Regions from separate parts of the Homo sapiens genome. Here all the other regions are linked to region 2. Evidence: fine-mapped expression QTL. A gene starts in region 2. Each other region holds a variant in brackets. All regions are shown on one strand. Distances are between the middles of the regions. Region 1 overlaps ING5 (inhibitor of growth family member 5). Region 2 holds the start of ING5 (inhibitor of growth family member 5). Region 3 overlaps D2HGDH (D-2-hydroxyglutarate dehydrogenase).

Evidence for each region. PIP is the estimated chance that this variant, and not a neighbour inherited with it, causes the effect.
Region 1: its variant is fine-mapped to the expression of ING5 in thyroid (GTEx, PIP above 0.99). The same link has a PIP of 0.9 or more in pituitary.
Region 3: its variant is fine-mapped to the expression of ING5 in whole blood (TOPMed, PIP above 0.99).

What each region holds. Positions count from the first base shown.
Region 1 is chr2:241,723,814-241,731,986 of GRCh38, reverse strand. It overlaps ING5 (inhibitor of growth family member 5), which reads right to left. Exons shown (of 8, transcript NM_032329.6): 8 at 2,509-6,998. The coding sequence ends at 6,956. Among named protein-coding and RNA genes, the nearest start is that of D2HGDH, 6.7 kb to the left of the region's middle. The variant A/C (reference allele first, on the strand shown) is at 3,509.
Region 2 is chr2:241,697,721-241,705,870 of GRCh38, reverse strand. It overlaps ING5 (inhibitor of growth family member 5), which reads right to left and starts at 3,832. Exons shown (of 8, transcript NM_032329.6): 1 at 3,769-3,832; 2 at 1,147-1,218. The coding sequence starts at 3,805. RefSeq lists enhancers at 2,714-3,343, 3,582-4,414 and silencers at 3,069-3,628, 3,813-3,976, 3,719-4,538.
Region 3 is chr2:241,754,444-241,762,616 of GRCh38, reverse strand. D2HGDH (D-2-hydroxyglutarate dehydrogenase) reads right to left here. Exons shown (of 10, transcript NM_152783.5): 9 at 6,603-6,768. Among named protein-coding and RNA genes, the nearest start is that of GAL3ST2, 18 kb to the left of the region's middle. RefSeq lists a silencer at 1,697-1,897. The variant C/T (reference allele first, on the strand shown) is at 3,392.

The DNA of each region.
Region 1 (8,173 bases), 26 kb before region 2:
CTACTTGGGAGACTGAGGCAAGAGAATGGCTTGAACCTGGGAGGCAGAGGTTGCAGTAAGCTGAGATCACGCCACTGCACTCCAGCCTGGCGACAGAGTGAGATTCTGTCTCAAAAAAAAAAAAAAAAAACTGTCTCAGAAAATAATAACAACTGATTTTTCTTTTTCCCAGGGCATAGTCACCCTAGCAAAGCCCACATGTACCCTCAGAGAATGCTTGGAGGAAAATACGGCATGTGCTGGTTTCAGCGTTGTGGGGCCCTCACCCAGCATCTCAGCCTCCTCTTCCAGCGAGATGGCAGGTGCTGGTTTCCGCATTGTGAGGCCTTCCCCCAGCATCTCAGCCTCCTCTTCCAGCGAGATGGCAGGTGCTGGTTTCGGCGTTGTGGGGCCTTCCCCCAGCATCTCAGCCTCCTCTTCCAGCGAGGACTCCAGTCTACGGATTGGTTTTCACCTGGACGGTGGGTGAGAGGCCGACTGTACCTCGTGATGACCAAGCTCTTCCCGGGTTCTGTTAATGCACTCCTCAAGGCAACATCTTGAGACCCATCAGCTCCTGTTATGTTTGTGTCCCCCAGAATTCGTATGCAGAAGCTGTAACCCCCAATATGGCCGTATTTGGAGATGGAACTTCTGAAGAAGTAATTAAGGTTAAAGTCAGTCACAAGGGTGGGGTCCTGATCCGACAGGACAGGCATCCGTAAAATAAGAGACACCAGAGAGCTCCCTCTCCCAGTCAGTTTCGTAGGCACACATGAGAAGGCAGTGTTCACAACCCAAGGGAAGAGCCCTGGACAGGCACCAGACAACCCCAGCGCCTTAATCTTGGACTTCCAATCTCCAGAAATATAAGACATTTTTCTTAAGCCTCCCAGTCTGTGGTATTGTGATAACAGCCTGATATGGTTTGGATTTGTGTCCCCGCCCATAATCCCCAATGTTGGGGGAGGGGCCTGGTAGGAGGTGACTGGCTCATGGGCGCAGATTTCCCCTTGCTGTTCTTGTGGAGGTAAGTGAACTCTCAGGAGACCTGCTTGTTTAAAAGTGTGGCACCTTTCCCCTTTGCTCCCTTTCTCTCCTGGTCTGCCGTGGTAAAACGTGCTTGCTTCCCCTCCGCCTTCTGCCATGATGTAAGTTTCCTGAGGCCTCCGCACCACGCTTCCTGTACAGCCTGCAGAACTGTGAGTCAATTAAACCTCATTTCTTTATAAATTACACAGTCTCAGGTCGTTCTTTATAGCAATACAAGAATGGACTAATACAGAGCCTAAGCTGACTCCAGCAGCTTCCAAAAGGCAAGTGCAACACGGTAAGTCTTGCCCTTCCAGAGCAAGCACAGTACTCCTTTAGAAAGCAACTGCAGCGGCCGGGCGTGGTGGCTCACGCCTGTAATCCCAGCACTTTGGGAGGCCGAGGCAGGCGGATCACGAGGTCAGGAGATCGAGACCATCCTGGCTAACACGGTGAAACCCTGTCACTACTAAAAATACAAACAATTAGCCGGGCATGGTGGTGGGCGCCTGTAGTCCCAGCTACTCGGGACACAGGCAGGAGAATGGCGTGAACCTGGGAGGCGGAGCTTGCAGTGAGCAGAGATTGCACCACTGCACTCCAGCCTGGGCAACAGAGTGAGACTCCGTCTCAAACAAAAAAAAAAGAAAGCAACTGCAGCATTCTCACACGTCTTCCTTGGAAGTCAACTTGAGCCCCAGCACTGGCCACTGAGCTTCCTGAGCAACCACCCAAGGTAAGGCACAGGGTCCTCCCCAGACCCCCAGCCAGCAAGCTCCGCAAACCACTCTCCAATCACTGCATACCCCTTCAGAATTCAATTTCACACACCTGTCTCTGGGCACAACACTGACATTTTACACCTGTTTCCCAAAATGATGCTGAGTCTTGGGGGTGGTTCCCCCATACTTTTCTCGTGGTAGTGAATAAGTCTCACGAGATCTGATGGTTTTTTTAAGGGGAAACCCCTTTCACTTGGCTCTCATTTTCTATTGTCTGCTGCCATGTAAGATAAGCCTTTCGTCTCCCGCCATGATTGTGAGGCCTCCCCAGCCATGTGGAACTGAGGGTCCACCAGACCTCTTTTTCTGTCAGGTGCGGTGGCTCACGCCTGTAATCCCAACACTTTGGGAGGCTGAGGCAGGCAGATCACCTGAGGTCAGGAGTTCAAGACCAGCTTGGCCAACATGGCAAAACCCCATCTCTACTAAAAATACAAAAATTAGCAGGGCGTGGTGGCACGTGCCTGTAGTCCCAGCTACTCAGGAGGCTGAGGCAGGAGAATCACCTGAACCCGGGAGGCAGATGTTACAGTGAGCCGAAATCATGCAGTGCCATTGCACTCCAGCCTGGGTGACAGAGCAAGACTCCGTCTCAAAAAAAGAGAAAAGAAAATTTTTTTTAAAAAAAACCTCTTTTTCTTTACAAATTACCCAATCTCGGGTATGTCTTTATCAGCAGCGTGAAAACGGGCTAATACAGATGCACTTTCAATTGTTTGTTCCAAAAAATACTTTATTTATTAAACAATATATCCATAATCTATAACATGATCCAAAAATACTGATATACATCTTTACATTATCTAATAAAAAGATTTACAACATTATCTTTCCTTTACAAAGGGAACATAGATAATAATTCCTTGAAAATAAAAATGTAACATTCATGTTAAAGCTGCATCATCGTTTTGGATGAAACGTGGTTAAAGGTGGACACCACAAAATACATACAGAGGAAGAAAGAAACTCCAACACAATCTCTCCTGAATGGGAACATTTTCTTACACTTCCCCTGGCTTAAAATTCCTCTCAGCACAAGTATTGAAGGCCAATCACTGCTCACTAAAAATTTAAGAAAACCTTAAGTCTTCAATGCCCATAATTAACATCCCTCACGGTTTTACTCTAAACCATGAAGACCTAACCTAGGACAGGGCAGACCCTCGGCTCTGGGGTCATGTGGGAAGCTGCTCTGGGCCAGCGTCATTGCTCAAAGCAGCCCCAGCCAGGGCTCCCAACGACAGGACAGGAGGCCAAGTCCGGCAGGGCTGCTGGACACCAGACAAGCTGGCCGGTGTCCCCATCAGTCCCAGCAAACCCTCCCACCGCCACCAGTCTGCACAGCTGCTTCTCGCTGCTCCAGGCAGACTGGAAAACACCCACGCCACAAAGCCCTGGCCAACAGTGAGACGGGCGGTCAGCTGCTGCTCAGGCAGCCACGTAGGCCTCCGCACGGCGTCCCTGGCCAACAGTGGTCTCATGTCCACCCGCCCAGGGGTCCCGTCCAGCATGAGACGGGCGGTCAGCTGCTGCTCAGGAGGCCACGCAGGCCTCCGCTTGGCATCCATGTCCCCAGCAGCAGCACCTAGGGCACATTCGCAGATGCAGAGGGCTCGGTTTCACCAGCTCCTGTTTTCACTGCAGCCTGCCTTCCCCTACAGGATTTCCTCAGATCACTGACTGATACCGCAGCACTGAAAACAAGGAAAATGGGT[A/C]GAACGCTCCTTCCCATCGAGGTCAATCGCACAGCCACAGAGGACCCACACCTTCGGCTCAGATGAAGCTGCCACAGTGACCCACTGGTTCCAGCCCACACACCCTCAATCCAAGAGATGGGTCTGGGGCCGGGCAGCTGTGGAGGGGGGTCTGGTCCGAGACCAAATCCTTGAATCACCCCCAGGGAGAAGGCGGCCAGGCCTTCTGGAGCAAGGCGTGGATGGTGCAAATGGTGTGGCTTCTGTGTCCCTGCAGGGCGGGGGCCAGGCCAGGGGCCATGACCTTCTTTTCTGGCCAAACGGCCACTCCTGAGTGTGTCTCTCCCACGGGTAGACAGCGTCAGCCACAGAGCACTCAGGATTCAGTTGGGTCCAAACTACAGCCCAAGGAATTGTCTCATTCTGCTCATGTTTTCTATGTTTCTTCCAAAACTCTATGCATATTATTTTGGTGATATTATTGTAAGTGGCAAAAGTAAACATTAAAAACACTAAGCACAGAAACTTGAAAAGAAAAGGTCAAAATTCAATACCTGGGATGGTGCACAGTGGCAGGCAGGACCACATCATCACGTGTCAGACAAAAGCGTCCCACAGGGAAGCCAGTCATCTTTCCCCAAAAAGCAGCGAGACCTCAGGAAGCCGGGCAGCCAAAAGCATCAACAACCCCAGCGCTTTCCAGGGGTAGCCACAGGTGTGAACAGCTCAAAGGTGGAGCGCAATATCAAATTCATTTCTGAAAAATTGCCAGGCGCTGTTTCAGCACAAACTCCCTGCACTTACCTATCCCTCTTCCCAAAAATGGTAAAAGAGAGAAAAACATTTTCCACAATGTATCCTCCACGATCAATAAACATCTGTGTTGGCCGGGTGCGGTGGCTCATGCCTGTCATCCCAGCACTTTGGGAGGTCGAGGCGGGTGGATCACTTCAGGTCAGGAGTTCGAGACCAGCCTGGCCACACATGGTGAAACCCCATTTCTACTAAAAATACAAAAATTAGCTGGGCGTGGTGGTGGACGCCTATAATCCCAGCTGCTCGGGAGGCTAAGGCAAGAGAATCACTTGAACCCAGGAAGCAGAGGTTGCAGTGAGCCAAGATGGTGCCATTGCATTCCAGCCTGGGTGACAGAGCAAAACTCCGTTTCAAAAACACAAAACAAAAAACAAAACACACACACACACACACACACAAAACCTGTGCTAACAAAAAGTTAAGTCATTAAATGAAAATTCATCTCCCAGCTGAGCGCAGTGGCTGACACCTGTAATCCCAGCACTCTGGGAAGCCGACGCAGGCGGATCATTTGACCCCAGGAGTTTGAGACCAGTCTGGCCAATATGGTGAAACCCCGTCTCCAACAAAAATACAAACTTAGCTGGGTGGCCAGGCGCGGTGGCTCACGCCTGTAATCCCAGCACTCTGGGAAGCCGAGGCGGGCAAATCGTGAGGTCAGGAGATCGAGACCATCCTGGTTAACATGGTGAAACCCTGTCTCTACTAAAAATATAAAAAATTAGCCAGGCGTGGTGGCGGGCGCCTGTAGTCCCAGCTACTCGGGGGGGCTGAGGCAGGAGAATGGCGTGAACCCGGGAGGCGGAGCTTGCAGTGAGCCGAGATCACGCCACTGCTCTCCAGCCTGGGTGACAGAGCAAGACTCCGTCTCAAAAAAAAAAATTAACATACAAAACCCACCCATCTCCAGTTTCACAGCCGTGGCGAAGGGTGTGAAGCACTGTAGCCTGCCCTCTCTGGCGCTTTCCCTTCTAAGCCGCAGGAAGGCACCGCTTGGAGGGAGCCCCTTCAGGCCCAGACACTGGCAGGGACGAGCAGCAGCAGTGGCCGACCGCCCGCCTGCACCTGCCTGGCACCTGCGCCCGGAGGATCCACTCCCACCCACACCCTCGGAAAAGGACAGGTGGCCCAGAGGCATCCGTGTGTTCAAGAACCGCAGAACATGAATGTGGACACCATCCCAACCAGGACTGTTCAGGGTGTTCTTGTTCTCTTGTTCTCACTCACTGACTACCAGCTTCTCGACGGGAGGGCCCCGTCTGAGACACAGAGCTTCACACGTTCCTTCTGCTTTATTTCCTCTCCCTAGTGAAACATTAAACACAGGAGGAAAAGATACAGATGTAGCCATCAGAAGGAAGTGAGGCTGTCATTCCAAATGGCCCCCCACCATGAAGAAACCCAGGCTTCTTAAATCAGGAACCTCACGTCTCAGTTTTCCCTCAGGTTTCTTTCTGTGGTGTGAGGACAGAAACAGGCGTCCCTGCATTCCTCAGCAATCCTCTCCTTCCTCTAAAGGCACGGGAGAGGATTTCCGAGCGCCTGCGATGCTGTGGGGAACCGCAGGCTGGGCACCGTCACCAACGCGTCACAACAGAGCAAATCTGCATAGCCTTCCCCAACTACCACCGAAAGGATGGCTCCGGCTCAGCTTGGTGAACGCTCATTAAACAAAAAGCACACTCGAGTTTCCTAGCTTCATTCCAGAACTGCTATTGTGGCACAACAAATTCACAACAAATTCACATCGGAGTCCCCTCGACCGGGAGCTGCGGGCCTGGGAATGCACAGCACAGGCAGAAGCATTCGTGGTTCGTCAGCTCCTGGCAGACGGGACTCACTTCACGGACACACAGACCCACGATCTTCATGCTATTAGGGTAATTTCATCTTCACAGTAAAAAATCACCAATTCCCAGAGAAACGGAGCATCAGCCCAGCTGTCGCACAGGGTCTCGCGGGTGCTGGTCACGGGACCTGCGGCCACTCCAAGCTAATGAAGAGCCGTTTACTCCGGAGGTGAGTCCCCGAGGGAGGACTGAAGTCCAAGCTAAAAAGGCGGCGCCAGCGAAGCGGAGGCCGCTTCCTCCAGGGAAGAGCCCCCAGCCCTCCCGGGCCCATCCGAGGCGCCCCACGCGGGAGCGCACGGTGGCCGGAGGCGGCGCGGAGCCGAGTGTGAGGAGGGCAGCCGCCGCCACGGCAGTGGCCCCACGCGCGCCTCGGTGGCAGGTGCTCCAGCGGGCGGGGCACGCGGAGCCCGGGCTGTACCGGACAGTCCTGGAAAACCACAGGAAAGCTACGCGAGGGTGGCGGCCGCCCTCCGTGGACCAGGTTACCATGTCCCCGCCCGCACGCCCGGCCGGGCAGCCCGAGCTCACGCGCGCCCGCCCACGTCCGCCGGGGTCCCTGCTGATGCTCGGGGGGAGTCCTGTAAAAGCCACACTGAGGTCGCGGCGGCGAGTCCCTGCAAGGTCGCCCTTCTGTGCGAACAGGCTTTGGTGGTTCTTGTTCTAGGAAACATCCAGCGCTTCAACTGGCCACGGAGTTACTAAGTATCAACCGAACAAGGTAGTTTTAAAAGGAAGGGAAATATTGCGACACGAATGAAGGGACAGATTAACTTGCTCCTCGGATCCGGGCACACAGCTCCTCCTACTTCTTCTTCCTCTTTTCCTGGACACACCGTGGACAGAACCTGTGACAAGAAAGGCGCAGTGAGGCCCTGGGCGCCATTTCCGCCAGCGCGCAGGGTGCCCAGGGCCCGCCTCCCCATGTCTCCCAGGGCTGCTGGACGCCGGCAGGAGGGCACCAGGAGAGGCACACGCAGTGGGGCCGCGGCCCTCCCGCAGGGAAAATGCGCCGATGCACGTGCGGCTCTATGCAGGACGCCGGTTCTGAAGCTGACAGATACACCATCAATGAGCAAAACCGATTTGACACCCAGGCGTTCCTCCTTAACAGGTGGGTCCTTCTTCCCCGGCCGATGGCAGGGTCGCTGGTGCCCTCTGTCTGCAGTCTGTGGGGGCTGCAGGTACCAAGCACGCGTTGAGAGCATGGCAGCCCCTCAGGCCCACGGAAACCCAGCCAGGCACCCTGCACTGGCCCTGGAAGCTGCCGTCTCACAAGTGCTCCCTGGTGACTCTGAGCAAGTTCTGGAGCTGCACGCACAAGGGGCTCCTGAACAGAGGCAGCTGCTGACCACAGAGGACATTCCATAGGTTCCCCACGCAGGAGGCAGCCGACTCGCATGACGGCAACCGTCAACCACCGCCTGGCCCAGGCCCAAGCCTGCCCAGGGCCCTCCGCCCTAACAGCCTCCGTACCCCTTCTCAAAACCCTCGGTGCACCATCCCCCAGCCGCACGGCGTGGGGCACCACAGTGCCATGTGTCCCTGTGACAGGACAGCCTGTGTTGACGCCACATGACACCGTGAGCTCGGCCAGCCTCCGAGACACGGCATCCTTTCCCTGTGTCCTCACACCGAACACCAAGGATAACTGGCTCTTACCAACTCGGGCGAGTCTGCCGGAGTTTCAAACACGCTGCCACGATGACCTCTGAGTGCCACACAGAAGAGCACATTCCGATTTCATTTTCAGAACATAGATATCCATTTTTAGATTTTCAGCACAGGCAAACAAAGCCAGGTTTTTATCTTTTTATTTATTTATTTGAGACAGGGTCTTGCTCTCTCGCCCAGGCTGGAGTGCAGTGGCGCGATCTCAGCTCACTGAAGCCTCGGACTTCCAGGCTCAAGCCATCCTCCCGCCTCCGCCTCCCAGGTAGTTGGGACCACAGGCACGCACCACCACGCCCAGCTAATTTTTGTATTTTTTGTAGAGTTGGGGTCTCCCGATGTTGCCCAGACT
Region 2 (8,150 bases):
ACAGCCAGGAGATGGGGGAGCCAGGTGAGGGCATGTGAGGGTGTGGGGGCCACTGGAGAAGTACAGCTGCCTGTGCCATATACGTCTGAACAACGTCTAAAACTGACGAGAGATAAAATAAGAAACAGCAACAAAAACATGTTGTTTAGAAACAGGGAGTTTAAGGGCCGGGCGCGGTGGCTCATGCCTGTAATCCCAGCACTTTGGGAGGCCTAGGCAGGCGGATCATGAGGTCAGTAGATCAAGACCATCCTGGCTAACATGGTGAACATGGTGAAACCCTGTCTCTACTAAAAATACAAAAAATTAGCTGGGTGTGGTGGCATGTGACTGTAGTCCCAGCTACTCGGGAGGCTGAGGCAGGAGAATCACTTGAACCCGGGAGGTGGAGGTTGCAGTGAGCCAAGATCGTGCCACTGCACTCTAGCCTGGGCAACAGAGTGAGACTCTGTCTCAAAAAAAAAAAAAAAAAAAAAGAAAAAAACAGAGTTAGGGCCAGGCGAGGTGGCTCACGCTTGTAATCCCAGCACTTTGGGAGGCTGAGGCGGGCAGATCATGAGGTGAGGAGATCAAGACCATCCTGGCTAACACGGTGAAACCCCGTCTCTACTAAAAATACAAAAAAAAAATTAGCCAGGCGTGGTGGCGGGCACCTGTAGTCCCAGCTACTCAGGAGGCTGAGGCAAGAGAATGGTGTGAACCCAGGAGGCAGAGCTTGCAGTGAGCTGAGATCACGTCACTGCACTCCGGACTGGGCGACAAAGCAAGACTCCGTCTCAAAAAAAAAGAAACGGAGTTAAATATCAAACGGCCAAAAAGTACTACCAAACTTTTAAAACAATGCACGCACTACACACTTTGAAAATTGAAAATATTTAAAAGAAAAAATTGGCAATAAATATTTTGATTGGAAAGGGTGATGGTTATAAAAACATGATATAAAGATGTGTAAGAACCCAAGAAACAATGTGGCTTCAAAAGTATCAACACCTACTGCAAGACACTGAGTGATACCCACGGCCCAGGGCTAGGCCAATGCCCCACTAACCTGGGTCCCCTCAAAACCCTCTGCCCCCAGCCTTCAGGAGCTGCTGGCTCCCACCTGTCAGAACTCAGTTCTGGTTGTATGGAGAGGTCTGAACCCACCTTCCGTCCTCTGGTCCAGCTCTCGCATCAGCTGGAAGTTCCTCTGAAGTTCGCAGGGAAGGTTCTCGATACCTGAAACGCAAAAACACAGAAGCCATGTACCTCTCAGCAGCAAGACAAAAATTCACCTCCAAAGGTTTTCTGTCTTTTTTTTTTGAGATGGAGTTTCACTCTTGTTGCCCAGGCTGGAGTGCAGTGGTGCGATCTTGGCTCACTGCAACCTACACCTCCCAGGTTCAAGTGATTCTCACGCCTCCGCCTCCTGAGTAGCTGGGATTACAGGCACATGCCACCATGCCCGGCTAGTTTTTGTATTTTTAGTTGAGACGGGGTTTCACAAGGTTGGCCAGGCTTGTCTCGAACTCCTGACCTCAGGTGATCCGCCCACCTCGGCCTCTCAAAGTGCTGGGATTACAGGTGTGAGCCACCAGGACTGGCCAAAAGTTTTATACTTCAAGTCTACAAGCCCACTCTGTATTCTGTCTCTGTCAGGGTTTGCGGAGCGGAAGGACTGTGATCTCATTTTTAGATGCAGGTACCAAACAGTGCTGACAAGAGGCTGTGTGCACACTTCGGAAGCTGTCAGAAGTCAAAGAAGGGAGAGGGAAACTTGGAAACCAACAGCACAGGCAGGGGAGGCCAACTGACCCCACCCTCTAGGCTGCCCCCCCTCAGTGAGCAGCATCTTCCAAGGCTCAAGCCAAAATCCCCTGGGTCCTCCTTGATCTTCCCCTACTTTACCCAGAAATCCAGTGCATTGAGCAGTGTAGCCACGCTGCCCACGCGACTTTATGCAAGGATAGAAATGTTTCCTCTCTCGGATGGGCGTGGTGGCTCATACCTGTAATCCCAGCACTTTGGGAGATCAAGACAGGCAAATCAGTTGAGGTCAGGAGTTCAAGACCAGCCTGGCCAACATGGTGAAACCCTGTCTCTACTAAAAATACAAAAATTATCCAGGCGTGGTGGTGCACAGCTACAGTCCCAGCTACTCGAGAGGCTAGGGCATGAGAATTGCTTGAACCTGGGAGGTGGAGGTTGCAGTGTGCTGAGATCATACCCTCCAACCTGGGCAACAGGGTGAGACTCCATTTCAAAAAAAATCAAAAAAAGAAAAAGAAAAGAAATGTTCTCTCTGAGCTGCCCAAGACAGTGGTGGCCATAGGGAGCTACTGAGCACTGGAAATGGGACTAACGCCATTCAATTTTTAATTTTACTTAAATAGTCCCTGTGGCTAGCGCAACCATTCCCCACAGTCTGCCAGGAGGACCCCCGTGCTGCTTTCGCGTCTGCTTTGTTACCCCCTAGACCAGGCCAACCTCCGCCCCCTGCACAGCTGACACAGGCTCCTAAGGGGGGCTGCCTCCTCCAGTCTTGGCCACCCTCCCATCTGCTGTTCACAGTTACCAGGCAATCATTTTAAACCTAACTCTATCTTATGCATCTGATGCTTCCAGCCCCAGTGTTTTCCCAGCTCCCCTAGAGGACAGAGGCACAGCCTCCCGGCTGGCACAGCCTCCCAGACACACACAAAGTCAACCCTCCTTGGGAGGCCAGCCCACTGGCTGGGCACCAGGATAGAGAAGGCCTCCCCTCCAGCGTGCTCCCCAGCTTGACTCTTCTACCCAGGGAACCCCCCACTACTCAGACCCCCAAGAGACAGCGGAGCACATGGGCAGAATCGGGCGTCCCTCTAGGGCAGCGGTCTCCAGCTCCAGGCCACGGCTCACTCGCCACTGTCTCAGCCCCTGGGCGGGTGCCAGGCCGAAGACCATGAGGATCCCCAGTGCAGCGCCCCCACAAGGGCCCTCCAGAGCCACCCGGCACAACCCCAAACACCGCGACCCCAAAGCTGTGCCCATCCCGGGCCGACGTCAGGGGTCCCGCGTGGGGTCTGCCCCTCTACGAGCGGGAGACCCTGAGCAGGCTGCTCGGCAGCGCTGGACCTTCCCTGGTGTGTAAAGTGAGGGAAAGCACCGTCCGCTCAGCCGCTGGGGGCGCCGACCTGCTGCCACCTGGAAACAGCACAGCCCGCCCACCAGGGCCGACTCGGCACCGCCCTCCCCGCCTCCGCGCCGCAGTCCCCAGTGCCGGGGAGAGACGCCCCGCGGCCCGCACGCCCTCCCCAGCCGCGGTCACACAAGAGGCCGGCGCACACGGGCGCACAGCCAGGCGGAGGCCCAGACCCCGGAGCCCCCAAGGCCCGGAGCCCCGCAGCGGGCGCCAGCTCCTCCTGCAGACGGGACAGGGACGGGCGGGACCTGGCGGGGCCGGGGCCGGAGCTGGGGGCGGAGATGAGGCGGGGCCTGGGTAGGGGCGGGACCTAATATGTGGGCGGGGTCGAGGCCGCAAGCCCCGCCCAGCATCGCCAGGCCCCGCCCCGCCGTGACGCACCTGGAATTGGCGCGACCCAGCCGGCGGGACCCCCCGCGCCCGCCCCCCGCGCCCTCCCCTCCCTTGCGGCCCTGCCCCGCCCCGTCCGCGCGCCCCCCGTCGCGCCCGGCCGCGCCCGCCGCCCTCCCGAGCCCACGGGGTCTGCATGCGGTGCCCGGCGCGCGGGGGGCTGCGGCACGGAGGACTCCGCGTGGGCGGCGGGCGCGGGGCCCGTGGGGCGCGCTTACTGTCCAGATAGTGCTCCAAGTACATGGCGGTCGCCATCTTCGTCCGCGGCCGCGCTCGGGGTCTGCGCGGGCGGGCGGTGCCGCGGGAGGCGGGGGCGGGGCGGTGCCAGCGCGCTCACTATTCATGAGTCGCGCGCGCTGATTGGTCGCGCCCGGGGGCGGGGTCGGACACGCCTTTCAGCTTCCGGCGGGCGGCGGGCTGCGGGGCCCGGGCGGAGGTTGTGGCAGCGGCGTCGGGCAGCGAGCAGGACCCAGGGCCGCAGCGGATCGGAGGCCGAGGAGGAGCAGGGGTTCCCGGCCCCACCGCCCGGCGTGCGGCCCAGGGCACCCAGGTGGGCGTCTCCCCTCCGCACCTGTCAGCGACCCCTGGGCCACCAAACGCAAACACGTGGTCCCGGGGACCTCACGCCCGTCCTGACGGCGCCCACGCGACCCCTGCTCCCGGCCGGGTCCCGGACAGGCCGCCACGAGGCCCTCCCTTCCCGAAGGCTCCTTGGGACCTGTCTGGCTCAGCGCCTTTCCCCCGGACCCCGAGCCCCCGGGGCCTCAGCCCGGCCTGAGCCGAGGGCCGGCACCGCGTGGCCCGGGCGAGCTGCCCCTCCCTCAGGGCCTGGGCCCTGGCGCCCTTCCCCCGCCAACGCCGCCCCTTCCCTCCGAGGAAAGCGGCCGCCCCGCCCAGCACCAGTGAGGGCACTGGCTCCTTTGCTGCCACCTCTCGAGGCAGGCAGGACCCGCACCATCTGGATGCCTTGGCCGAAAAGGCACGTGCGGCAGTATGATATAGTTAATAAGATGGCGTGCAAAGGTGTGCCGTAAGATGCATGCAAAAATACTGGAGAAGGCCGGCGCGCTGGCGCACGCCTGTAATCCCATCACTTTGGGAGGCCGAGGCGGGCGGATCACTTGAGGGCAGGAATTTGAGACCAGCCTGGCCAACGTGTTGAAACCCCGACTCTACTAAAAATACAAAAAAAAAAAAAAATTAGCCAAGCGTGGTGGCGCACGCCTGTAGTCCCAGCTACTCCGGAGGCTGAGCCCGGGAGGCGGAGGTTGTAGTGAGCTGAGATCGCGTCTGCACTCCAGCCTGGGCGACAGAGCAAGACTCTGTCTTCAAAAAAAAAAAAGAAAATTTTAAGAAAAAAAAAATACTGGAGAAACATAATTAAAATATGTTTCAGACTCGGCACGGTGGCTCACGCCTGTAATCCCAACACTTTGGGAGGCCGAGGCGGGCGGATCACTTGAGGGCAGGAATTTGAGACCAGCCTGGCCAACGTGGCGAAATCATGTCTCTACTAAAAATACAAAAATTACCCGGGCGTGGTGGCGGGCGCCTGTACTCCCAGCTACTCGGAGACTGAGGCAGGAAAATTACTTGAACTTGGGAGAGGGAGGTTGCAGTGAGAAGAGATCATGTAACTGCACTGCAGCTTGGGTGACAAGAGCAAGACTCCGTCTCAAAATAATAATAATACAAAAACTAGCCGGGCATGGTGGCAAGTACCTGTAATCCCAGATACTCGGGAGGCTGAAACAGGAGAATCGCTTGAGCTTGGGAGGCGGAGGTTGCAGTGAGCCGAGATTGCACCACTGCACTCCAGCCTGGCCAGCAGAGCAAGATTCCATCTCAAAAATAAAATAAAATAGGGCAGGCGCGGTGGCTCACTCCTGTAATTCCAGCACTTTGGGAGGCCAAGGCGGGAGGATCACGAGGTCAGGAGATTGAGACCATCCTGCCTAACACGGTGAAACCCCATCTCTACTAAAACTACAAAAAAATTAGCTGGGCATGGTGGCGGGCGCCTGTAATCCCAGCTACTCGGGCGGCCGAGGCAGGAGAATGGCGTGAACCCGGGAGGCTGAGCTTGCGGTGAGCCGAGATCGTGCCATTGCACTCCAGCCTGGGCGACAGAGCAACACTCCGTCCCAAAAAAAAAAAAAAAAAAAAAAAACTTAGCCGGGCATAATGGCTGGTGCCTGTAATCCCAGCTACCCAGGAGGCTGAGGAAGGAGAATCACTTGAACCTGGTACGTGGAGGTTGCAGTGAGCCGAGATCGTGCCACTGCACTCCAGCCTGGGTGACAGAGCGAGACTCCATCTTAAAATATAAAATAAAATAATTTAAAGTGTTTAAATATTAGTCTTTGGGGTGATTCTTCTCTGCCTCCAAACTGTGTAGCATCATCATGCAGTGCTCACCAGTACCCATGTCACTCCTCTTCCCACTTCACCACTGGACGCCCCCAAGCTGGGGATCAAACTCATCTCTGGCAGGTCTTTCATGGGTGAGGTGTGTCACTTCCCAGTCCTGTCTCCACTCCCTGTGATCTCAAGAGGACGTCCCAAAGGCTCCCCGAGCCCCAAGAACTGATGACCACTAGATGTAACGTGTAGGCCCCAGAACCCCCCGCCCCACCCCCAGCCACATCCTTGACTTCCGAGATGCAACGTTGCTGGTCACACAAATTAGCATAAGCTGATCAAAGGAGCAGTACTTTCATTATTTAAAATGCATTTTTAAAGATATTAAGCCAGCTGCTGTGACTCAAATCCGTATGATCACCATGAGAGGCTGAGGCGGGAGGATGGCTTGAGCCCAGGAGGTCTAGGCTGCAGTGAGCCATGATCAAACCACTGTACTCTTGCCTGGGTGACGGAGACCCCCACCTAAAAAAACAAGCTATGTCCCCCTTGGTGGACTCTTCCCTAAACCCCAGTCAAATATTGAAAACCAGAAACAATGTTTTTGCCACTATTATGTTCATTATAAAAATTCAGGCCAGGCATGGTGGCTCACGCCTGTAATCCCAGCACTTTGGAAGGATGAGGTGGGTGGATCACCTGAGGTCAGGAGTTTGAGACCAGCCTGACCAACATGGAGAAACCCAGTCTCTACTAAAAATACAAAATTAGCCAGGCGTGGTGGGCATGGGCCTGCAATCTCAGCTGCTCGGGAGCCTGAGGCAGGAGAATCATTTGAACCTAGGAGGCAGAGGATGCAGTCAGCTGAGGTCATGCCATTGCACTCCAGCCTGGGCTACAAGAGCAAACCCCTCCCCCCCCAAAAAAAAATTCAGCTGGGGTGGTGGCTCACGCCTGTAATCCCAGCACTTTGGGAGGCCAAGGTGGGTGGATCACCTGAGGTCGGGAGTTCGAGACCAGCCTGACCAATACAGAGAAACCCCATCTCTATTAAAAATACAAAAGTAGCTGGTTGTGGTGGTAGCTGCCTGTAATCCCAGCTACTTGGGAAGGTGAGGCAGGAGAATCACTTGAACCCAGGAGGCAGAGGCTGCGGTGAGCCAAAATCATGCCATTGCATTCCAGCCTGGGCAACAAGAGCAAGACTCTGTCTCAAAAACAAAAAAATTAAACAATACAGGAACTTTTAGCTTCCCACCTCCCCAGGGGGCAGGACTGTGATTGCCTTGTTCAGCTTTCAGTCCTAATGTTAGCAGTTTGAGTGCATCCTTACTGGCCTCATTTAATTATAGACTATTTTTCCATCAGTTTTAGGTTTATTGAAAAGTTGAAGAGAAAGTAGACTTCTCATATACTCCTCCACACACACACACACACACACACACACACACACACACACACACTCCTCTATTATAAACATTTTGCATTAATGTGATACATTTGTTACAATCGATGAAACAATATTGATACTTTTTTTTTTTTTGAGACCTCAAATTAGCTGGGCTCGGCTCACTGCAAGCTCCACCTCCCGGATCCACGCCATTCTCCCGCCTCAGCCTCCTGAGTAGCTGGAACTACAGGTGCCCGCCACCATGCCCGGCTAATTTTTTGTATTTTCAGTAGAGACGGGGGTTTCACCGTGTTAGCCAGGATGGTCTTGATCACCTGACCTCATGATCCTCCTGCCTTGGCCTCCCAAAGTGCTGGGATTACAGGCGTGAGCCACCACGGCGGGCCCGATACATTATTATTAACCAAAGTCCATCATTATTTCCATAAGGGTTCATTCTGCCTTGTGCTTTTTTTTTTTTTTTTTTGAGATGGAGCCTGGCTTCTTCGCCCAGGATGGAGTGCAATGGTGCAATCTTGGCTTACTACAACCTCCGCCTTCTGGGTTCCAGCCATTCTCCTGCCTCAGCCTCCCAAGTAGCTGGGATTACAGGCAGGCACCACCACGCCTGGCTAAGTTTTGTATTTTAAGCAGAGATGGGGTTTCACCCTGTTGGCCAGGCTGGTTTCAAACTCCTAAACTTAGGTGATCCACTGGCATCAGCCTTCCAAAGTGTTGGGATTACGGGCGTGAGCCACCACGCCCAGTGCCTTGTGCATTCTTATAGGTTTTGACAAATGTATAATGTCAGCTACCCCCCATTACATGTCATACAGCATAGTTTTGTGG
Region 3 (8,173 bases), 57 kb before region 2:
TTGGACTGAGTTCCAAGAGGAGAACAGAGGAAGGGGAGAAACGGTGTTTGAAGAGGCTCTGGTGGCTGAGGAATTTCTAAAGCCAGCAAGACCCCAAAGCCCAAGAAGTGCCAGGCAGGTAAACACTCACCCGGCCAACAGGCAGGTAAACAAACACTCATCTGGCCGACTCCCGGCCAAACCAGAGTGAAACCGCAGAACCCCAAAGACAATGGAAGGAGCTGAAAGCAGCAAAAAGGAAAAAGCAGGCTGGGCGCGGTGGCTCACACCTGCAATCTCAGCACTTTGGGAGACTGAGGCGGGTGGATCACGAGGTCAGGAGTTCGAGACCAGCCTGGCCAATATGGTGAAACCCCATCTCTACTAAAAATGCAAAAATTAGCCGGGTGTGGTGGCACACGCCTGTAATCCCAGCTGCTCGGGAGGCTGAGGCAGGAGAATCGCCTGAACCCGGGAGGCGGACGTTGCAGTGAGCCAAGATCGCACCACTGCACTCCAGCCTGGGTGACAGAGCGGGACTCCATCTCAAAAAAAAAAAAAAAAAAAAGGAAAAGAAAAAGAAAGAAATTATTTATTTCCCTCTGTTCCCTCCATTCCCCCGAAGGGAACTGCCCTGAACTGAGGCTGTCTCCGCACCAGCAGACATCAGAAGAGAGAACAGAGACTCCCTCCTGCTGCTGGGAAGCAACTGTCAACCCAGAACCACGGAAATCCACTGAGGAAAAGACATTTTTATCAACTAAATCAGTACATTTCCAGACAAAGAAAATCTGAGCTGTTCCGTCACCTATTTTTCCATGCCAGGGAAAATTCTGGAGGCTGAGATTCAAGCAGAAGCTGTGTGCAAACTGGCTACGCAGAATCAGGATGGTGACATGGTGACAGGGTTATGTGTGACTGAACAAGGCAGAACCAGAATACACCACCGAACAGCATGCAGGTGCCCCTCAGTGTCCCTGGGGGACTGGATACAGGACCCCTCGGATATCAAAATCCTGAGATGCTCGAGTCTCTGACAGGAAATGGCATAGGATTTGCATATAAACTACACACATCCTCCTGTATACTTTTCTTTCTTGAGACGGAGTTTCGCTCTTTTGCCCAGGCTGGAGTGAAGTGGCACAACCTCGCCTCACTGCAACCTCCGCCTCCCAGATTCAAGCAATTCTCCTGCCTCAGCCTCCCAAGCAGCTGGGATTACAGGCACACGCCACCATGCCTGGCTAATTTTTGTATTTTTAGTAGAGATGGGGTGTCACCATGTTGGCCAGGCTGGTATTGAACTCCTGACCTCCGGTGATCCACCCGCTTTGGCCTCCCGTATTGCTGGGATTACAGACGTGAGCCACTGTGCCCGGCCCCTCCTGTATACTTTAAATCACCTCTAGATTACTTACGATTCCTGGTACGACGGAAATGCTGTGTCTGTCACTGTTATACTACATCGTCTTTTGTTTATTTTTTATTGTTGTATTGTTATTTTTATGGTTGAATCTGCAGATGTGGAGCCCGCAAATACAGGGGCCACCATAAACTGGGGGGTAAACGACAGCCAAAGTGACGGGGCCCTGAAGTCCTCGCACTGTGCAGCCATCAGGGCTCCCAGAGAGGCAGAACCAGCAGGATGTGTGTGTACAGACAGTGCGAGCAAGAGTGAGATTATACATATTTAGAGAAACAAACAGAGAGAGAAAGATGGAGAGACACACTGAGACACAGGGAGATGACAGACACTGATTTTAATGAACTGACTCATGTGACTGAGGGAGCTAAGTCTAAAATCTGAAGTCCAGGTCAGCAGGCTGGAGATCCCAGCAGGAGCTGGTGCTGCAGCTTGAGTCTCCATCTGGGTCAGAATCCTCTCTTCCTTAAGAGATCTTAGATTTCTGCTCTTGTGGCCTTCGACTGATTGGGTAAGGCCCACCCACGCTGTGTCGAAGTCCTTCGACTGATTGGGTAAGGCCCACCCACACTGTGGCAAAGGACTTCGACTGATTGGGTAAGGCCCACCCACACTGTGGCGAAGGACTTCGACTGATTGGGCAAGGCCCACCCACGCTGTGTCAAAGGCCTTTGACTGATTGGGTAAGGCCCACCCACGCTGTGGCAAAGGCCTTTGACTGGGTAAGGCCCACCCACGCTGTGGCAAAAAGCCTTCAACTGATTGCGTAAGGCCCACCCACGCTGTGGCAAAAAGCCTTCGACTGATTGGGTAAGGCCCACCCACGCTGTGGCAAAGGCCTTCGACTGATTGGGTAAGGCCCACCCACACTGTAGCAAAGGCCTTCGACTGATTGGGTAAGGCCCACCCACGCTGTGGCGAAGTCCTTCGACTGATTGGGTAAGGCCCACCCACACTGTAGCAAAGGCCTTCGACTGATTGGGTAAGGCCCACCCACGCTGTGGCGAAGTCCTTCGACTGATTGGGTAAGGCCCACCCACACTGTAGCAAAGGCCTTCGACTGATTGGGTAAGGCCCACCCACGCTGTGGCGAAGTCCTTCGACTGATTGGGTAAGGCCCACCCATGCTGTGGCGAAGGCCTTCGACTGGGTAAGGCCCACCCACGCTGTGGCGAAGTCCTTCGACTGATTGGGTAAGGCCCACCCACACTGTGGTGGGAGATCTCCTGTACTCAACGTCTACTGATTTAAATGTTAATCACACATAAAAAATATCTTCACAGAAACATCCAAACTGGAGTTTGACCAAACGAGGGTACCAGGGCCCAGACAAGTGGACGCAGAGAATTCACCATCACACATTATTTGGGAGGAAGATAGTGACTCTGATTAACCTCAAACCCAGAGGGCTAGAAATGTCCACTGTGGTGCCAGGGCGACCACCAACAGTTAGTAAACGGCAAAAAGCTAAATGACAAAGAACATAAACCAGAAGAGCAAAAAACAGAGGAAAAAATAGACAAGAAGTGAGAGACAAAGAGCAGGGTGAAGTAGACAAATCCAAACAGTGGGCCACAGCACGTGCTCAGCAGCCAAACGCTCTCATTCAAGACGGCAAACAAGTACGCAAGAAACCTGTCCGGGGGCGTCCACAAGAAACACATCTAAATCACTAAGGATGGAAAAGCTGAAGCTAACCGGAGGAAAAACAACACATCAGGCAAACACTAAATAAAAGAAAGTTAGCATCACTGTGTAATAAACAAAGCAGACACCAAGGCAGCGGGCAATGCTGGAGATAAAGAGCGAGTCCATCGCGTTAGGAGATTCAGTTTCCCAAAACAAAGAGACGAACCTCATGTCCTATGCCCCTAAGAACACGTCTCCAGAACTGGCAAAGCTACAGGAGGAACAGATTAGTCTGTTGTCAGCAGATTTCTAACACCTCCCTCAGGGAGTGGCAGGTCAGCAGGATGTAGAATGAACACG[C/T]GACGTATACTTCTATCTGATGGATCTGTACAAACACTGATTCCAGCAACTGCAGAGAGCACATTCTTTTCAAGCACTCCACAGTTACGAAGGCTGATCATAAGCTGCCACTGATCAAGTTTCAAAAATCTGATCTGATAAGGACGAAGTTTCCTGGGTATAATGCAATAAAAAAGAAATCAATAATTTTTAAAATAACTAGAAAACCACCACGTTTGGAAATTAAGAAACACACTTCTGCATAACTCATCGGTCAAAGAAGGAATGATAATGCAAGCAGCAAATAATGCCAGGCACAGTACCTCACGCCTGTAATCTCTGGCTTTGAGAGGCCAAGGAGGGAGCATTTGCTTGAGGCCCCGGAGTTCAAGACCGGTCCGGCCACACAACTGGCTCTACATGAGTCTGGCTCTACACACACACACACACACACACACACACACACACACACACACATATATTGTGGGGCGGGGGGCGGTATAGATCAGATGTCACTGTGTTGCCCAGGCTGGTCTAGAACTACTGGACTCCAGTGATCCTTCCAGCCTTGGCTTCCTGAAGTACTGAGATTATAGGCGTGAACCACTGCACCGGGCCTACAAAAAAATTTTTTTTTAGTTAGCCAGGCCTGCTGGTGTGTGTGAGGTGGCGGGCCTGCTTGATCCCAGAAGGTCGAGGCTGTGGTGAGCCACTGCACTCCAGCCTGGGTGACAGCGAGACCCTGTCCCCACCAAAAAAAAGGGTGTGGGGGCATCCCACAAATGCTACATAAAAAGACAACAAAAGAATATTCGAACAACTTTATGCCAATATGGGAAAAAATTAGCAATACCAATCTAGAAGAAAGGAAAGCTTGAAAGTCCTAAAGCTATTGAAGAAGCTGAGCTATAATTTTAAAATACTCCCTCAAAAAAACCTCCAGGCCCAAACAGCTCCACTGGCAAGTTCTGCATAATATTCATGTTATGATTTTGATACCAAAATCCAGCATGGACAGAAGAAAGGAACAGCGTGGAACAGAATCATCCACCAAGACCCCTGTCAAAATCCCACACCAAACATAAACAAACTCATCCAGCAAGATACAGAAAGGATCATGGCCACCTTGGGCCTACCCCAGAAACACAGACTCATCTGACTCCAGAGGGATCAATCAGTGTAACTTACCACACTGATTACAGGCAGACAAGCACCCGGTCACCATGACAGATGCAGGAAACACATTTTAAAAATTCAACATTCATTCTTGCTTTTTTTTTTTTTTTTGAGATGGAGTTTCACTCTTGTCACCCAGGCTGGAGTGCAATGGTGCAACCTCTGCTCACTGCAACCTCCGCCTCCTGGGTTCAAGTGATTCTCCTGCTTCAGCCTCCCGAGTAGCTGGGATTACAGGTGCCTGCCACCATGCCCAGTTAATTTTTTGTATTTTTAGTAGAGGCGAGGTTTCATCATGTTGGCCGGGCTGGTGTCGAACTCCTGACCTCAGGTGATCCACCCGCCTCAGCCTCCCAAAGTGCTGGGATTACAGGCATGAACCACTGCGCCTGGCCCATTCTTGCTTTTACAAAGTAACAGAGGGCTCATTCCATTTCTCACCAAGATGGTCTGCTTTATCTGTGGCCAAGAGAGACTGAAGTTACCTGGAGAGGAGGAAGCCTCCTCCTGGCTTGAGGTCATATTCTGAAATATTGGGGATCCCGTACCCCTCTTCTCTGGATGATGACACACTCATCATGCCCTTAACCCCTTCCCATATTCTGAAATATTGGGGCTCCCGTACCCCTCTTCTCTGGATGATGACACACTCATCATGCCCTTACCCCCTTCCCATATTCTGAAATACTGGGGCTCCCGTACCCCTCTTCTCTGGATGATGACACACTCATCATGCCCTTACCCCCTTCCCATTCAGGAGTCCTGCCTTCCTATCACAGAAGATTACCATCCATCCTATGTCAAATCCTCCAGATGTACCCCTCCACAGGCTGGGCAACTTTGGGCAAGTTACTTAAATTCTCTGAACCTGTTTACATGTGTGTAAAAGGGAAGCAACACCACCAGTCCTAAAAGCTGTTGTGCAGAGAAGTTTCTCCACATCAAGTGCTTAGAATAATGCCTGGGACAGCACGGGACCTTCGTAAGTAATACGTGTTATTGTCGTCACGTACACAACCCTAGACCCTCCTGTAACCACAGAGGTGGCACCTGAATCCCATTTACTGGCAGATGGATGGAGGCTTCAGGTCAGTGACTCCAGTGCCACCAGGCCAGGGAAGAAGCCAGAGTGAATATCTGTCAGGCCCCAAAGCCATGCTCCACACCCCCAGCACTGCCCCCACCCCTGCCCTATAAGCTGGCCTTTTAGACACCTCGCTCCAAGGCTCCAAAGAACTGACAGGAAAACAGCTGGGCACGGTGGCTCACTCCTGTAATCCCAGCACTTTGAGAGGCCGAAGTGGGCAGATCACCAGAGGTCAGGAGTTCAAGACCAGCCTGGCCAACATGGCAAAACCCTGTCTCTACTAAAAATACAAAAATTAGCCAGGCCTGGTGGTGGACGCCTGTAATCCCAGAGACTCGGGAGGCTGGGGCAGGAGAATTGCTTGAACCCAGAAGATGGAGGTTGCAGTGAGCCGAGATTGCGCCACTGCACTCCAGCCTGGGTGACAAGAGTGAAACTGCGTCTCAAAAAAAAGAACTGATAGGATTGAAACATTTTCTTCCTATGAATTAATAGCTTACACGTTAAAGCATGATTTTTCTGCAGAAAAAAGATGATCTGAACGTGGTTTTGAAATCCTCCCATCTGAAGGGGTAGAGCAGCTGGGGGCTAAGCACTGCAAAGGCCTCGGGGCCGGGCCCTGTGAGAGGAGCCCCTGAGACCCGCATCCCGGACTCCGGGGTTAAGGCTGATGCCCTCCAACCCTGCATGCCACTGAAGATCCCAGAACGTTCTGACAAGCTGAGCCATGCGCTCTGCCATTACAAGTGCACGATGGCAGTCTTTTCCAAAATACTCAAAACGAGTCATGACAACGATTAGGATTTTCCCTTCCCTGTCAGACACCGTGGTCCTGCCAGTGTCTACGGGAGATATGCTAAGCCAGAGACCATGGTCAAACTGCCCTGCCTCGAAGCCTGGCAGGGTGACGGTGACCGTGGGGCCCACCACCCAGCACACACAGGGCCGCGGCCCCGGGGCGCCGCTCACCAAGGTGGCCATAGCCCACCACGTGCTTGGCGTGCGGGCCGAGGCGGGCGCGCAGGTCAGTCACGATGTCGTAGAGCCGCTCCACAGGGAGGGAGAGGTCGTACTTGTACACGTAGCCATCCCGGCTCAGCGCCTCTGTGATCCTTTCCCTCAGGGCCCACAGCATCTAGAGGATGAGACGAGATGAGACAAGGGCTGGCTATGGGAACGACACCCGGGGACAGGGGGCACACCACACGGGGTTAGGGCAGCAGCATGTTCTGTATCTTCACCAGGTGAGGCTCCGACCCCGGACAGCAAATGCCCCAGACCAGGTGTGGCTCCAACCCCAGACAGCGAATGTCCCAGACCAGGAGGGGCTCTGACCCAGGACAGCGAATGCCCCAGACCAGGTGTGGCTCCAACCCTGGAATCAATCCCAGACAGTGAATGTCCCAGGCTCCACGACAGCACCGAGCACCCTGGGACTCCGGCAATCAGGCGGCTGGGACACCTCACAGAAGGGGGACAGCCATGACGGAAGGGGGAGGCGCCCACCTGCAGCTTCAGGTCATGACACGGCACAGAGTGGCAAGGGCCAGGGAAGGCCCTGAGGATGAGAATGGGCCTGGACGCTCCCTGAACCAGGGTGGGGCAGGGTAGGGAAGGGGGCGCAGAGTCACACAGGCAGTGGGGACAACAGCAGGGCCCAGGCAGCTCAAGGGGCATGTCGGGTGGGAGGCAGGGACATGGCGGGTGGGCCACAGGGGAGGGAAGGACATGGTGGGTGGGCCACGGGGGAGGGAAGGACACGGTGGGCGGGCCGTGGAGGAGGAGGGACACGGCGGGCGGGCCACGGGGGAGGAAGGATTCTGAGGAGGAGCAGACGGTGCTGGTGGCTGAAGCAGAACCGGGCCAAATCCTAGGGCTCAGACAGATCGGCCTGTGGTTTGCGTGGCTTTTGCTTGCTTCGAACTTCCATTGTGGAGATCTGCACCATGAGGAACAGGACAGAGCCATCCTCTGTGGGCTGCAGGACCACCTCTCCCCTGCAGGGTCCTACCCAGGGCTCAAGCCCAGCACCTGCCCCTCCAGAGACCCTATCATTTCAGGAAATTCTAAGAGAAACACTTGGCCGGGCGCAGTGGCTCACGCCTGTATTCCCAGAGCTTTGGGAGGCTGAGGCAGGAGGATCACTTGAGCCCAGGAGTTTCAGACCAGCCTGAGCCACACAGGGAGACCCCGTCTCTTAAAAACAATAAAAATCAGCTGGGTTTGGTGGTGGGCACCTGTAGACTCAGCTACTCGGGAGGCTGAGGCGGGAGGATTGCTTGAGCCCAGGAGGTCGAGGCTGCAGTGAGCTGCAACTGTGTCACTGCACTCCAGCCTGGGTGAGAGCGAGACCCTGTCTCAAAAAAAAAAGACAAAAAAAGACTCTGTTTTATTGAGGCAACCACAATGCCACACTGACACTTAAAAAAATACCACCTCCTCGCCACCACTGGGAATCCGGCCGGCGCCCAAAATTCCCGCATTTCCCCACCATCAATTTTTTGTTTTTTTGAAGTCTCCCGATGTTGCCCAGGCTCGTC